2 separate regions of the Homo sapiens genome follow, and region 2 is linked to region 1. Evidence: fine-mapped expression QTL. Tissue or cell type: whole blood. Region 1 holds a variant in brackets; the other region holds the start of a gene. All regions are shown on one strand. Distances are from middle to middle.

The links. PIP is the estimated chance that this variant, and not a neighbour inherited with it, causes the effect.
Region 2: RHOXF1-AS1 starts here. The variant in region 1 is fine-mapped to the expression of RHOXF1-AS1 in whole blood (TOPMed, PIP above 0.99).

Annotation. Positions count from the first base shown.
Region 1 is chrX:120,138,653-120,146,761 of GRCh38, forward strand. RHOXF1-AS1 (RHOXF1 antisense RNA 1) reads left to right here. Exons shown (of 5, transcript NR_131238.1): 3 at 346-467; 4 at 5,071-5,248; 5 at 6,986-8,109. Among named protein-coding and RNA genes, the nearest start is that of RHOXF2, 16 kb to the right of the region's middle. The variant C/T (reference allele first, on the strand shown) is at 5,004.
Region 2 is chrX:120,031,362-120,039,462 of GRCh38, forward strand. RHOXF1-AS1 (RHOXF1 antisense RNA 1) reads left to right here and starts at 4,875. Exons shown (of 5, transcript NR_131238.1): 1 at 4,875-5,171.

The DNA of each region.
Region 1 (8,109 bases):
ATCCAAACTAACAACAAATGTACAAGTAAAGATGCAGGTAAAACTGAATTGTCCGATTCCATTACGTCATGTGTGTCAAGCACAGCAGTAAAACAACAAACTCATGCATTTAACTTTTTAGGTTTTTGCTTTTGTGATGCCAGTCAAACATGGACATCCTGTAAAAATAGTTAATAGGGAAATAACTTCAAATGATGGCTAGCTTTGTTTAATGTTATGTTTGCCTAAAATAAGAACCTAGATCTTTTCTAAGTAAGATAAACCACTTAAACACTAATTACTGAACCTAAGTTTTAAGTTTATATGCTTTTGGTGTTTTATTTTCTTTTATTTTATTTTATTTAGATGGAGTCTCCCTCTGTCGCCCAGGCTGGAGTGCAGTGGCGCGATCTCGGCTCACTGCAACCTCCACCTCCCGGTTTTATGCGATTCTCCTGCCTCAGCCTCCCGAGTAGCTGGGACTACAGGTGCGTGCCACCATGCCTGGCTAATTTTTTGTATTTTTAGTAGAGATGGGGTTTCACTGTGTTAGCCAGGATGGTCTCAGTCTCCTGACCTCATGATCTACCTGCCTTGGCCTCCCAAAGTGTTGGGATTACAGGCATGAGCCACCGTGCCCGGCCTGGTGTTTTATTTTTATATGATATAGTGAAGCTAAATACATCTGGTTCTGTTAATGAACATGAAAAATTATACAATGAGGAAGCATATTCCTCTAGAAATTGTGAAACTGTGTGTTCATAAATTTGCTAATCTGCTACAGAACACTAGTATATGACAGTGCTATAGACTCAATGTTTGTGTCCCCGCCAAATTCATACGTTGAAATCCTAACCCCTAATGTGATTGTATTAGAAAGTGGGGCCTTTGGTAGGTTATTAGGTCATGAGGGTAGAGTCTTCACAAATGGGATTAGTGTCCTTAAGCATTCTCTGCCTGTTTCTATTATGTAAATACATGTAAAGCCCTGATAAATTTCCCCAAATGTCATTGTTACAAACCTATTTATATCTTTACTACAGAGCATATCGTGGGAAAATTTTTTATTTGAAATCACACGGTTAAGAGTTCAGAATTGGTTAGAAGAGTAGGGAATGGCTTACGCTAATATATCTACAATGACGTATTTGTGTTCCTGTAGTGTTAAGGATAGGAAGACAATGGATATTCAACAGCAGCAACAATAATATCAACAATTAATCTAAAGAAACTTACAAGAAAATATGACTAAATATTTACCCACTTTTGGCATTTGAGTTTTGCTTTCAATTATTTAAACTGGATTTCCTGAAGTATTTAATTTGAAATGTGAATATCTGCTCTCTTCAAGTGATACCTTTTTCCTTTGCTGTTTTTAATGTGTTTTCTGTAGCTGTAATAAACCATAAACAGGTGTCTGACAGCTTTTCTGAGTCCAGAAGCACAGAATGCTCTATGAAAGACCATGATCCATTCTCTCTCCTATCAACATGTTTTTGTTTGTTCTGTACCCCATTTGTTTTGTCTAGGAGCAAACACACAGAGATCTTAAGCCTATTAAAGTTGTGTTTTGGCTTAGTTTCGGTACACATATCCTTTTAATACAGCAGTTATTAAAAATTATTTTAGGCAATTAGAAAGGGTAAAGAGTTCTTGGTGGAATTTTCCATTAATAAAAAGCAGCCCCCAAACCATTTCTTTTCTAACAGAAAGCAGCCTGAAACTTCAAGCTGCAAGCATAGCTATGCAAGCTAGCTTTCATATGTAAATGCCATCAGCTGTACCTGGAAGCCAGGTACATTCAATATGGCGATTCTCGCTCCCTTTTCTTTGTGGCCACGTGTGCGGGTGTCATGGCACTAGCCAGGTAAAGTCACATGTGCAGGTGTCATGGTGACAGTCAGATAGAAGCCATAATTGCATAATAAAAGATTAGGGTTGGAGGGCCAGTCTTTTCATGGACTGTGTAAATGGAGCACCTGGTCAAACCAATCCCCTGGGCTCTATGTAAATCAATCACCGCCTCCTCAAGCCTTTGTACAAAATTGATCACGTTCTGCACCTAACCCAGAAACCCTCTCTCAGGTGACCCGCTTTCTCAGCATGAGGAAGCTTATTCTATCTCTCTTCCTTTTTGTCTGTTAAACTTTCTGCTCCTTAACCCACTCCACGTGTGTGTCCATGTTGTTAATCATCGGCGCGAGACAACTAACTACAGGTATTGCCCCAGAGGAAGTGGTTTCACTTTGAATGGTTTGGCACTATTGTCAAATATCATACTTGTTATAAGTCTTTGCAGATTTTCTATTTATTCTTGAGTCAGTTTTGGTAGTTTGTGTGTTTGTAGGAATTGTTTTTCAATGTATTAGGGCATCTAATTTGTTGAAATACAATGTTCATAGTATTTTCTTATAATCCTTTTTATTTCTGTCAAATCAGTGGTAACATCCCCTCTTCTTTTTCTAAAAAAATAATTTCAGCTTTTATTTTTGATTCAGGGGATACATGTGCAGGTTTGTTACATGAGTATATTGCATGATGTTGAGGTTTGAGATCTGAATGGTCCTGTCATCCGGATGGGATACTAGTGAACATAGTACCCAACAGTTAGTTTTTCAACCCTTGCCCCCTTCCCTACCTCCCCCCATCAGTCCCTAGTGCCTATTATTGCCATCTTTATGTCCATGAGTACCCAATGTTTAGCTACCACTATAAGTGAGTACATGCAGTATTTGGTGTTCTGTTCCTATGTTAATTAACTTAGGATAATGGCCTCCAGCTGCATCCTTGTTGCTGCAAAGGACATGATTTCATTCTTTTTATGTCTGCACGGTATGCCACGGTGTATGTGTGCCACATTTTCTTTATCCAGTCCACCATTGATAGGCACCTAGGTTGATTCCATGTCTTCACTACAGTGAATATTGCTGTGATGAATATATGAGTGAATGTGTCTTTTTGGTAGAACAGTTTATTTTCTTTTGGATGTATGCCAGTAATGGGATTGCTGGGTCAAATGATAATTCTGTTTTAAGTTCTTTGAGAATTCTCCAAATTGCTCTCCAAAGTGGCTGAACTAATTGACATTTCCACCAACAGTGTGTAAGTGTCCTTTCTTCTGCAGCCTCACCAGCATCTGTTGTTTTTTGATTTATTAATAATAGCTATTCTGATGGGTGTGAGATGGTATCTCATTGTGGTTTTGATTTGCATTTCTCTGATGATTAGTGATATTGAACATTTTTTCAAATGTTTGTTGGCCACTTGTATGTCTCCTTTTGAAAAGTGTCTGTTCATGTGTTTTTTGCCTGCTTTTTAATGGAGTTACTTGTTTTTTATTTCTTGAATTGTTTCCTTATAGATTCTGGATAGTAGGCCTTTGTTGGATGCATAGTTTGTGAATATTTTCTCCCATTCTGTGGGTTGTCTATTTACTCTGTTTATAGCTTCTTTTGCTATGCAAAAGTGCTTTAGTTTACTTGGGTCCCAATTGTCAATTTTTGTTTTTGTTGCAATTGCTTTTGAGGACTTACTCACAAACTCTTTCTTGAGGCTGATGTCCAGAATGGTGTTTCCTAGATTTTCTAGGGTTCTTATAGTTTGATATCTTACATTTAAATCTTTAACCCATCTTCAGTTAATTTTTGTATATGATAAAATGTTTGTATATGATAACCCATCTTCAGATAATTTTTGTATATGATATGTAGGGGCCCAGTTTCATTCTTCTGCATATAGCTAGTTAGCTATCTCAGCACCATTTACTGAATAGGGAGTCCTTTCCCCATTGCTTATTTTTGTCAAGTTTGTAAGAGATCAAATGGCCATAGGTGTGCAGCTTTATTTCTGGGCTCTCTATTCTTTTCCATTGGTCTATGTGTCTGGTTTTTTTTTTTTTTTTTTTTTTTTTTTACCAGTATTATCCCCTCTTTCATTTCTTATTTTAGTTTTTGATATTCCCTCTTTTGTTAGTCTGGCTAAAAGTTTGTCAACTTTGTTGATCTTTCAGAGAACCACATTTTGGATCTGCTGATAGTTTATATTGCTTTCCTATTCTCTATTTTGTTTGTCTCCATTCTTTATTATTTCCTTCCTTCTGCTAGCTTTGGTCTAGTTTCCTCTCCTTTGCTAGTTTCTAAATGTGTAAGTTCGATTATTGATTTTGCACATTTCTTCTTTTTTAATGTAGGTGTTTTTAGGTATAGATTTTCCTCTGAGCATTGTTTTTGCTGCATTTCATAGGTTTTGGGAGTTTGTGTCTTCATTTTAATGCATCTCTAAGTATTTTCTAGTTTCCCTGGTGATATCTTCTTCAATCCATTTGTTGTTTAACAGCATATTATTTATTTCCGCATATTTGTGAATTTCCCAGTTTCCCTTCTGCTATTGGTTTCTAATTTCATTTCATGATTGTGAAAAGTAAAGTAGAGGTTCCTCTTCAAAGACTTTCCTCCCCATCTAATTAGGAAGAAATAGTAACTTCTCTTAGAAGCAAAATTTATTCAAAGACCTGGGCTAACATTCTTAAATATCTGTGAGCTGTAATAAAGAAATCAATGTACTTTATGTTCTTAGCTTCCACAATTTAGCCTAAATATTTGCCCTGGCATGCTTATACTGGTCCAAGCAAGCATTAGGATAGCCTGTTCCTTTTCCTTATTTGAAGGTGTTTTTACCTTTCTCAGCATTCCATAAATTACTTCCTCCTTCCTTTGTTCTCCTCTGCCTTTGCCTCTTTTAAAAAGTTCTAAGTTGCTAGCCAATCAGGACTAATACAGAATGTGAGGTTCCATTCCAGCCAATGGAGACTGGACATAGCAGTAGGGTGGACATGTCAGGTTATAAATGACCCTGTCTCCCTTGTTCAGTGTACTCTCATGGCAGAACAGCTGGCGAGTGTACCCTTTCTGCAGAAAGTAAAAATGCCCTTGCTGAGGAAATTAAATTTATGTTCAAGTAAATTTCTTTATGGCACTGGGAAACAAGCATTTCTAACAATTTTGGTGGAAATCCGTACATGGATA[C/T]GTTCTCTTCTGGGGGCGGTCTCCAGTCCTTTCTCATGAGGGAGCACACTCCTCTGCCTCATTGCAGTGGCCTCAGGGATATGGAATTAAGATCCACCTGGTGTGATGAATAAACCCAGACTCTCAGCAACGCAGGAAAAAAAAAACAAAAACTGGCTGGCGATCTGGAGTAAAGGATCCTCACATCCACGTGAACCAGGAAACTCTGTGCCCAAATCGACGAAAAAAAAACACTGGGAGAGCCGGTAAAGTATTTCCTTGGGGTGGTTAAAAAGAGGTGAGAAATCCCCATTGGGGGGGTTAAACCTTAAAAAGAGGTAAGAAATCCCCATTGTAGGGGTTGAACCTCAAAAAGAGGTGAGAAATCCCCATTGGGGGATTGAACCTCAAAGAGGTGAGAAATCCCCATTGTGGGGGTTGAATCTCACACAAACCTCCGGTAGTAAATATATATTCAAAACTCCCCTTTCCTCTCTTCTCAGGAAAAGAAAAAGGCTAAGCTCCACTCCCACCAGTTGCTCCCCTAGGGGAAGGGGAAGGAGAGGGGGGAAAACAGCAGCATAGGTGGCTGGCAGAGGCGAAGTCCAGCAGGGAGGAAAAAGAAACCAGGAAAGGAAGTCAGAGAGAAAGAGCAAAAACAGCAAGCGTGACACCAGACAGGCGCACCAAGGGTTAAGTCCCTCTCCCCAGCCCAGCTCTATGTGAAAAAGAGGGTGGGGAACGGCGCCAGGAGGAGAGCAGAGGAGGTGAAAGGGCATAATTATTGCAACTTGCAGCAGGCATCTGCCAAGCCTCTGGGCCAGTGATGGCCCGGGGTCTGGACTGCAGCCCCACAAATCCCACCCAGCCCAAGAAACTGAGTGTAAGAAGAAAGGAAAAAAGTAAAAAGGGAAATTGGGAAAAGAAAAAAAAAGCAGATGAAACAGACGGCAGTGTGTGTGTGGGGGCGGGACCCATGCCATTGCCCGGCCTTGCCGGCCGGCAGGAGCAGGAGAACTTGGGAGGGAAAAAGGAACAAGGGATGACGGAGAGAGAGAGAAAAAAAGAGAGTGCAAATGAGAGAGAGAAATAGAGGGAAAGAATAAGTAAGAGACAGAAATCAAAGAAAGACAGAGGGTGAAACTAGGAAAAGAAATAGTGTAAAAGGAAGGCAGAAAGTTAAGACATGTTGAAGATTGTCTGTGAAAGTCGTAAGAAAGGTTATAAAGGGAATTTATGCAAGAAATATTGTATAATTTAAAAGTAATTAGGCCTCCTGAATGTAAAACTATTAAAAAAACAGTTTATGTACAAAGTATGTAAGAAAAATAAAATATACTTTTAATAAAAGGATTATAAGGAGGCATAAGAATATGGATTTTTACCTACATTAAAAGGTTTAAAAATTTTTGTTTTAAAGGTTTAAGCAAGTTTTAACATGTTAATTGTAAAGGAAATTCTGTGTGTAAACATTTTGGCTAAAGGTAAAGGGTTTATCATCCAGTTTTGCTGTGAACTGAACATTAAAATAAAACCACAATAGTTTATTCTTAAAGCACTAACCTGCTCTTTAACAAAAAATTTAACATGTTAAAAAGAGTCTATAAAAATCTTACCTTATAGTCAGACATTAAAATTGGATAATATCTACAAGATTTTATTAAAATTAAGTTTAACATTAATAGCACATTAATATAAAGGTAAAATTTAACTTACCTGGTACAAAATCATACAAAAAGCATTGTCAAATATAAAATGGTGTTTAGCTTTCTTAAGGTCCGAGGGCAGCTGGGTAAGTCACAAGCTCCTCATCCCCAAGGCCACAATGTGCAGGGGAGATGAAGGCCACTAGAAGGCCAAGACCTTAAGAGGGGGCAGGGCTGCAGCATCCTGTGAGTGGTGCTGAGCAGGAATGGAGTGGGAGGCATCACCATGGGACCTCAAGCCCCAGAATATGCAGCAAAAATTATATACTTTTTATCTTCCACTTTCCCTTCCCTCAGAACTAAAAGTCTTTTAGCACGGGTACCAGCCCTAGAATTTCCAGTACACCAGCAGCAGCCTGGAAACCACATCCTCATCAAAAGACAGAAAGAAAAAAACTCGAGCCAGCCTGAGAAGGACCCTATTTTATGCTGTTAACCACTGAGACTGCCATCCTCACAGCTGAGAAAGGATGGACCCACCATACTCAAGTCAAGAAAACATCTTCCTCGTCAGAATCATGGGTTACTGTACTAGGATTAAGCCTTACTAAGTTAAAGTTAAAGAAAGCTTAATTTTCATATACCTTCTATATTGCTTCTTTTCCTTTCCTTATTCTGTTACTAGCTCCTTTGTTATTAATGTAACTAAGTCTGAGTCACCTCAGACCATTGCCTTTTATGCTTGCTCTGTCATACCTTGTGGAAATGTAAAAGATCAATGACAGCTAGCCTTTTCACACAATTATTTATGCCTCGGCCCTCTAATTGACACAGTTACCCCTAGCACTCATCGTTGTGATCACCTGCAGCCAAGACGCTGATTTTCTGCTCCTATAGCCTGGCAACCTTGTGGTACATGGGACTACGTCCTTTAAACTACCCAGGAGCAAAGTTGGACTTCCATGAAAAAGGTTTGTGCAGATCTAAAACCTCTCATCTATTTCACTAAAAGGACTTCCCCTTCTAACTGTCACCCTTACCAATGTAACCCTGTCCTCTCTATCACCACCTCCACCTGTCTTTAACTAACTCTAGACCTGTCCTTAATTGCTTTTATGGTATTGGAATAGGAATTAAAAGAAATTAAAGAATGTGTAAGGAGAAACTCAGTTGTATGTAAGAAAACCCAATTCCCCCTGAGAAAGAGAAAGAGTTGGAGTCCTTTAAAAATTAACTGCCTGTTTTTCTGTGGCTAGTGAGCCTTATCTCTCCTCCTTTCCCAGACATTGTGAAGACCCTGTTTCTCTAGCTGTGCAGCTGCAAGGTCACTAGACAGATAAACTCAAGTTGTAAAACATGTTTTTCCTTGAAAAGTAAGAAATGCTGTAATGCATTTCTCAATTAATTAAATAACTGTCTTTGTTTCTCGCTTCTGTAATATGCTTCCCCCTGCACAGATCTCCACCCACCCTACAAAATGC
Region 2 (8,101 bases), 110 kb before region 1:
TGTAGTTGTCACTTGGAATAAGGAGTTGCATGTTCAGTGCTAAAGGTAACCAGATAATATGAAGATCTGTAACCAGATAATATGAAGATCTGAAAATGTATAACTACTGTAAAGATAGTGATATTCCATGTATATACAGCAATTCCACAGATGACATCAGGGTCTAGTAAGTAAGAAAAAATCATTTTTGATATTGATATTTTATCCAATTTAACATTTGTTCTGATGCTGACTTTAAACACACCTGCACTGTGTGATTTATGTTGTCCTCATCATACAAGGCAAGGTTTACAGAAGGAGGGAGGTGGCTTTCATGCTGAGAGTGATACTCTTTTATTGTACTACTCCATGTTAATTAGGCAATGACTTGTTACATGACAAACTTCATGTAATACAGCCTCTAGTCTTTATTTTGTGCTTCACAGATCTCATTTCTCTGGAAAGGAAGAAAGAGAACGAGTAGTTGTATTTCTATTACAGACAGTCAGGGATATAGAAGACTATTAACAACATTACTAAGTCTATTACTAAATCTGTCAATGTGTAGTTCTGATATCTTTCCACTTTGCCTTCGGAGGAGAAATTACACACTAAGTTTATGTCCTTAGATGAATTTCACAGCTGAATAGTGAGGGACTGCAAAATAACCGGTGAAAATGAGAGTTGGTCAGAATCAGCATTAGGGTCTGAATTTTTCACCTTTCTTTATGGTATATGCTATGGAAAATATCAATTAACTTGTAACTTGAGCTTTACCTTTTTACTCTATTGCTAGGAGTGAATCATATTACAACTATTTGAAGCTAGAAGACTGTAGTGGTGCTGTGTATCTTGGATTTCTCTTGATTTTTTGCAAGTGCAGTTAGCCAGAAGGTTTTTTTATTTTTTATTTTATTTTATTTTATTTTATTTTATAGCAGTTCTGACTGATGTGGTCCAGCTACCCTCAGAGCCACTGACCTTGGGCCAATATGTTGCCTACTCTTAAGTATTTTGAAATACTGCATGGAAAAAAATGTCATTTATTTGGTTGTATTACTATATTTAATTAGTTGAATAGATATGGTTAGTTTAATTTGTTAACTTGGCTAGGTGATGGTACCCAGTTATTCAAACACTAATCTAGATGCTGCTGTGAGGGTATTATATAGATGTGGTTAACATCTATAATCAGTTGCTTTAAGTAAAGGAGACTGTCTTGGATAATCTTGGTGGGCCTCATCCAATCAGTTGAAATGCCTTAAGAGCAAAACTGATATGCCCAGAGGAAGAAGAAATTCTGCCTGCTGACTGCAGCCTCAGTTTCCACCTGAGAGTTTCTAGGCTTCCCAAGTTCCCTACAGATTTTGGACTTACCTAGCTGGACCCCACAATCATCTAAGGCAATTCCTTGAAACAAATCAAATACATATATACCCTGTTGGTTTTTTTTTTTTTTTTTTTCTGAAAGAACCCTGACTAATACAGATTTTGAAACTAGAAGTGGGATGTTGCTGTACTAAAGACCTAAAATGTGGAATTGGCTTTGGAATTAGGCCATGGATAGAGACTAGAAAAATTTTTGAGAAGCGTGATAGAAAAAAACCTAAATTGCCCTGAAGAGACTGTTGTTAGAAATAGGAATATTAAAGTTGATTGTATAGAGGTCTTGGAAAGAAATGAAGAAAATGTTACTGAAAATGGGAGGAAAGGCAATGCTTGTTATACAGTGACAGAAAACTTGGCTGAACTATGTTCTTCAGTCACATGGAAAGCAGAACTTGAAAGTGATGAACTTGGATATTTGGCAGAAATTTACAGGCAAAATCCTTAAGATTTTTCTTTGTGAACCCCAAGATCTTTACCCTAAAATGGTTCTGTTGAATTTTACCCTGACAATGTAAATTGATAGCTTATCTTCATAACCTGGTTTCTCCTTGCTGCTTATAGTAAAATGTAATATTGATACAGACAGGAGACAGGGAAATACTGGGTAGAAGAGGGTGGTTTCCCAGCAAAGGCCCCACCCTCAAGTCTGGAAACCCGTGGCCCTAAATGGGAACAAGCGTTCCTGTTTTTGTGCCCAAATGCTGCCTTTTGGCCTGCCACGCCCCTGTATCCTGTACCTGTATAAACTCCAAACCCCAGGATCCACAAGCAGATGAGCAGACAAGCAGAAGAGCAGAGGAACAGAAGAGTGGTGTGGCAGAGAAGGAGAGAAGAGAAGGAGCTTCTGAACATCAAGAGGAGTTAGGCTGGGGACGGTAGGAGAGGAGATCAGCCAAGGGACGACTGAACTCCAGGGGAAGATTATCTTCCCACTCCATTCCCTTTCCAGCTCCCCATCCATCCTGCAGAGAGCCACCTCCATCCAGCAATAAAATACGCCACATTTACCATCCTTCAATTTGTCTGTGTGACCTGATTCTTCCTGGATGCTGGACAGGAACCCAGTACCAAGAGGGCACTGAGCTGTTTAACACTTAAGCTGTCCCTGGATGGCAGGGCTAAAGGAGCATTGTAACATCCCTGGATATTGCTGTAGGCCCAGAGCCCAAAAGTGCTTGCCCTAGCTCAAATGCGTGCTCCCCCTCCCATAAGGGGTTTGAGCATGCAGTGGCCAAACAGACGAGCCACACCCCTGTTGCAGGCCCTGCAAGGGGGGTCAGTGAACTCTCCCATTTCAATGTGAAAGATATAAATTGAGGAAAGAACTATTAGGCAAAAAGTAACTAGCACTTGATTTTGGAGGTTCTCAGCCTATCGTGATTCCAAAGGATGCCAAAATTAGAAAATTTATTGTCGCAAAAGCATACTCTGAAGAGAAGGCCAACAGTATGGCTGGACAATCTTGCTAAAGAGATTATATATGTGATTCATGGATCCAATCAACCATATCAGCTGAAGGCAGGAATAGAGATGGGTTTATCCAGGAAGGATCTTGTCTAATGACATGGACTCCCATAACACACACGAGACTGATAAGGATTTTGAGAATGTTATATCAACAGAAATACTGGCATCTTGGAGTAAAGGAGATAGATATGGGATGAAATGAAGGAAGACTGTTGGACTTCTGGAAATCTATAGGCAGGATATGAGCTGACAGGGCTACTAGACTGCAAAGACACATTAGCCTTCAAGAAAAAGGAAGAGTGAATTATGAGGGTGGCACAGAAGCTGGTGGATCACTGCAAGACCAGATGGCAGAACATTGAGCTAAAGAGGATTGTTCCTAGGCCTTGAAATCTAATGGAATTAGCTATGCTAATTATTTATTTATTTACTTTTTTGAGATGAAATCTCATTCTGTCACGCAGGCTGGAGTGCAGTGGTACAATCTCAGCTCACTGCAACCTCCACCTGCCAGGTTCAAGCAATTCTCCTGCCTCAGCTTCCTGAGTAGCTGGGATGACAGGAACTCACCACAATGCCCCTCTAATTTTTGTATTTTAGTAGAGACGAGGAGGGGGGTTTCACCATGTTACCCAGGCTGGTCTCGAACTCCTGACCTCAAGTGATCCACTCACCTCAGCATCACAAAGTGCTGGGATTATAGGCGTGAGCCACCACACCTGGCCCTGCCATGCTAAATTTTGAACTTACTTGGGACAAGAAACCACTTTATGCCTCCCATATTCATTCTTTTGGAATGGTAATGTCTTGTAAAAGGAAAATAAATCTCAGGACTCCAAAATCATTAAGCCAAAGGGAAAAGTCAAGCTGGGAACTGCATCAGGCAAACCTACCTCCCATTTTATTCTTAAATAAGATAGCTACAAACAAAAAAAAAAGCTACATACATGTCTCACAATTTGTCCACTGGGACATTCCTTTTGAGCCCCAAGATGTTTACCTTAAAATGGTTCTGTTGAATTTTACCCTGACAATGTAAATTGATAGCTTATCTTCACAGGTTCTAGACAAAGAACAGAACTCAAAGTCATCCTTCTGTTCATCTGAGACAGATGCATATCTGATTGCTTTCCTAATGTAAAAATGCAGATTCACTGAGCTGACAAAGGCATAAGTAACTATTCCTCTACCCTTCTCTCACATGTAAACTGTGTATTCAGTGAAAGGTTTATCAAACACTCAAAATAATGCAACCATTTGTCTGTTATCTACCCACACCTTTAATTTTTTTTCCTTTTCCCCCAATATCTGCCCTTTTGCCTTTAAATACTGAAGTCCACAAAATCTTCTTTGGAAAAAGGCATAGACCTGCCTTCCAGATGCATGTTCTTAACCTTGGTAAAATAAAATTTCCAAGTTAATTGAGACCTAGCTCAGATACTTTTTGGTTTACAAATTGGTAACCACCAAGGGATTCTGAGTGGAGGTGCCCCTGACCTTTGACAAATCTTCTATTACTGCTTGGTACCAGCTTGAGATATCTTTATTGCTCAAATCAATAGGCAGATTTGCTGAGGCCTGGGAACTTCCCCCCTCCAGACAATCCCTTGTAGCAGGACGAGCTGCAGACAAAATCTTTCAGACACTGAGTTGTAGAAGGAAGGGCTTTATTCAGCTGGGAGCATCGGCAAGCTACTGTCTTAAAATCCGAGCTCCTCGAGTGCACAGTTTCTGTCCTTTTTAAGGGCTCATAACACTAAAGATTTCACATGAAAGGGTCGTGATTGATTGAGCAATCTAGGGGGTATGTGACAGGGGCTTCATGCACCGGTAGTCAGAGTGAAACAGAACAGAGCAGGGAGTTTCACAGCGTTCTTCCATACAATGTCTGGAATCTATGGATAACATCGGTTGCTAAGTCATGAGTTGATTTTTAACTACTAGGTTTAGGCCAGGCAGGCCCAGGCCTGGTTTCAGTTCTGGTTTTGGGTCTGGTGCCTGGCTGCCTGCCCTTGGTTTCACTTCCTTGTTTTTTTCTTAAAACAGGTACTGAGTATAAAACAATATAAAACAATATGAGAGGGTCCGTCTCTTCCCTCACCCTGATCTCCCCAAATTTGGTCGATATCTAAGGTTTTTTTTTGCTGTACAACTCCTTTTCTGGAGTTTTACTCACTTTCAACAAGGAAGGTGAGTTTTCCTGCTTCCATGATGATGGAGGGCAGGCAACTCCTTTCTGGAGTTTCAGCTCAATTCCAACAGGGAAGGCGAGTTGGAGTTTTTTTCCTGCTTATAGGCTGGTAGAGAGCAGTGTTGAGCCTGGACTCCATTCCTAGGTAAGTAGCTGAATTGGGGTTTTATCTTGAAAATTCTCCTTAATGACCTAAAGTTAAGATTAACAACCAGCAGCTCTTAATTTCTCCTTACCATTAGAGTGCTCAGGAATTGTATACATAGTATGATCATTTGTTTGTTTTGCCAAACTGTTTTTTCATTTATTTGTTTGTTTTGTTGTTTTGGTCTTTTTCCCATTGGATTTGACTAACTCTACCCAACTATATCAAATGTGAAGGAAAGTTACAAATGGTGAGGAACAACGCCTCTGCATTGGGTAAATTCCTGCAGCTGGGGGGGAAAAGGGAAAAGGATAAACAGCCATCAACAGGAAAAAAGAAAGATTTTGACTACCTGAGGGGCTTTATTTACATAACAAGGCCACCTTTTGCTAGCCAAGCCAAACTGTGCTCCACACTGCAGTTCTGTAGCTAAGGTTTTGCCCTTTTTTCCACCACAACAGCCTGGGTTTGGTTCCTAAATCAAGTTCTTTCTGGTTTGATATTTGTGTTATTTTTGAAATATCAGCAATTTGTTCCAGCTAAAATAGGGTAGTGAGATTTAGAAGAATTTTTTAAGAGCTTAGTGGCTAAAAGTCAGTTTAATTAAAAGCTAATATCCACGATGTGTGTGTGTGTGTGTATATTTAAAAGGCCTTTATGGTTTTTTGTTTTGTTTTGTTTGTTTGAGAAGGAGTTTCACTCTTGTTGCCCAGGCTGGAGTGCAATGGTGCGATCTTGGCTCACTGCAACCTCTACCTCCCGGGTTCAAGCAATTCTCCTGCCTCGGCCTCCCAAATAGCTGGGATTACAGGCATACGACACCACACCCAGTTAATTTTGTATTTTTAGTAGAGATGGGATTTCTCCATGTTGGTCAGGCTGGTCTCAAACTCCCGACAACCTCAGGTAATCTGCCTTCCTCAGCCTCCCAAAATGCTGGGATTACAGGCGTAAGCCACCGTGCCTGGCCTGTTTTTTTTTTCTCTCCTAGTACCTTGTTTTTTGAGAAAAAGGTTTTTTCCTTCTCAGTCAGTCAAATGAATTCTGTTTTCTCCATTTACTTCTGCCTATCTCTCCTTTCTCTTGTTCCCCTCTGCTGCATGAGGGACCCAAAATAGTTTCTAACAGCCTGTAATTCCTTAAATAAAACAGAGAAGGCACTAGAGTCCTTTTTGAGGAGAAACATCTGTTTTTCCTTATGGAACCCCAAGAGTCTAAACAGACAAGTTCCTCTCAGATCTTAAACTGCTTGCTTTTGTACTGTGTTACCTGATTTTTGGACTAAGTTATTACAACAGAGGCTACTCTTCGGGTGTTTAAGATAAGAAAAGGTATACTTTAGACACTTAGAGGAAAGTCTTTGTAACAAAGTGCAGTGCAAATGCATCACATGGTCTAGAATCATGATAATTCTATCTTTTGGAGATCCAGGATTCAGCGTGGGCTCTGCCCAGAGCTGAGATCCAGTTAAAAGCTAGAGACTAGGCTGGGCACAGTGGCTCATGCCTGTAATCCCAGCACTTTGGGAGGCCAAGGTGGGCAGATCACGAGGTCAGGAGTTCAAGACCAACCTGGCCAACATGGTAAAACCCCATCTCTACTAAAAATACAAAAATTAGCGGGGCATGGTGGCAAGTGCCTGTAATCCCAGACACTTGGGAGGCTGAGGGCATGCCCAGCCGATGCTACACTTTTAAACAGCCAGATGTCATGATTACTCACTATCATTAGAACAAAACTAGAGGGGAAATCTGCCCCTATGATCTAATCGCCTCTCACCAGGCCCCATCTCCAACACTGGGGACTACAATTTGATATGCCTTTGCAATATCAATTGCTGCATACCAAGTTCTCTCTGTTTTGGGCCTCTGTAATAGTCACAATGTCAGGTACTGCTGGTGCCAAAGGTGGTATTACGCATTGAGCTGCCTAAAATCAGTGGTAAGTCTCCAAGAAACCAAGGTCTTGTGCACAGGCCAGATGGGGCTATTGAATGGAGAAACAGTCTCATGAAACATTTTGGCTTCCTTAAGCTCAGCAATGATGGCAATTATTCTTTTTCTCCCCTAGGCAGCTGACATTGTTTTTTGGGAAACAACAGTACTAGGTGTTGGTCATCAGATGGGTCCATGGTCTTCTATATTTCTCACTAAGATGGCCATAACTATTGCAATTCCTGTCAGGGCTTGGAGGCAAAGGCAAGTGGGGCTGCACATGGAAAACACATCACTGCCAATATTTCATTCAGTAGTGGGGGCCATGACAACGGAGGTTAGTAGGAGCCCAAAGTCAGAGAACACGATCTGTTTTCTCCTCATCTTGATGCAAGGGTTTGTGGGGATCACAGTCACCTGTGTACTGGTATCTAAAAGGCCTAAGAAGTGCAATTCCTCTCCACTGTTCAGTTGAACTCTAACCTTGGCATAGGGCCTCTGGGTCCCCTGAGTACAGAAGGATCTTGTTTATAACCCCTAAAATCTTTGGATTTTTGTTTGTAACCCCTAATCTTGTTTATATTTGAAAGCTGAGTGTCAGAGCAAAAGTTGCTCAGGATCTCTGATTTGTCTCCAAATCCACCAGGAGAGGTGGAAGGCCATCACTGTGCAGACTCTAGCGGGACCACTTATCAAATCCCCATGGCCTGGTACTTGGCCCTGAATTTTTTAGTGGGGAGCCCATCAATCTGCTTTCGTGGTTCCATTATTGAGTAATCAGACTCAGAGATCTCTTTGGGAAGGCCCTTGCCCAGACAGTCCAGAAGAGGGCACTCAAGTACTATTTTTATGCTCCCTTTTTGGAGGGGAGGGGTCAAATTTTGCTATTTTATCGGAAGCCATTTCTTCTGTGCCTGAGAATTTCTGAGTTAAGATCTGGATCACACTGCAGATTGATGGACTTGACCTCAGGAGGTGGCTTAATTGGGCTTGACA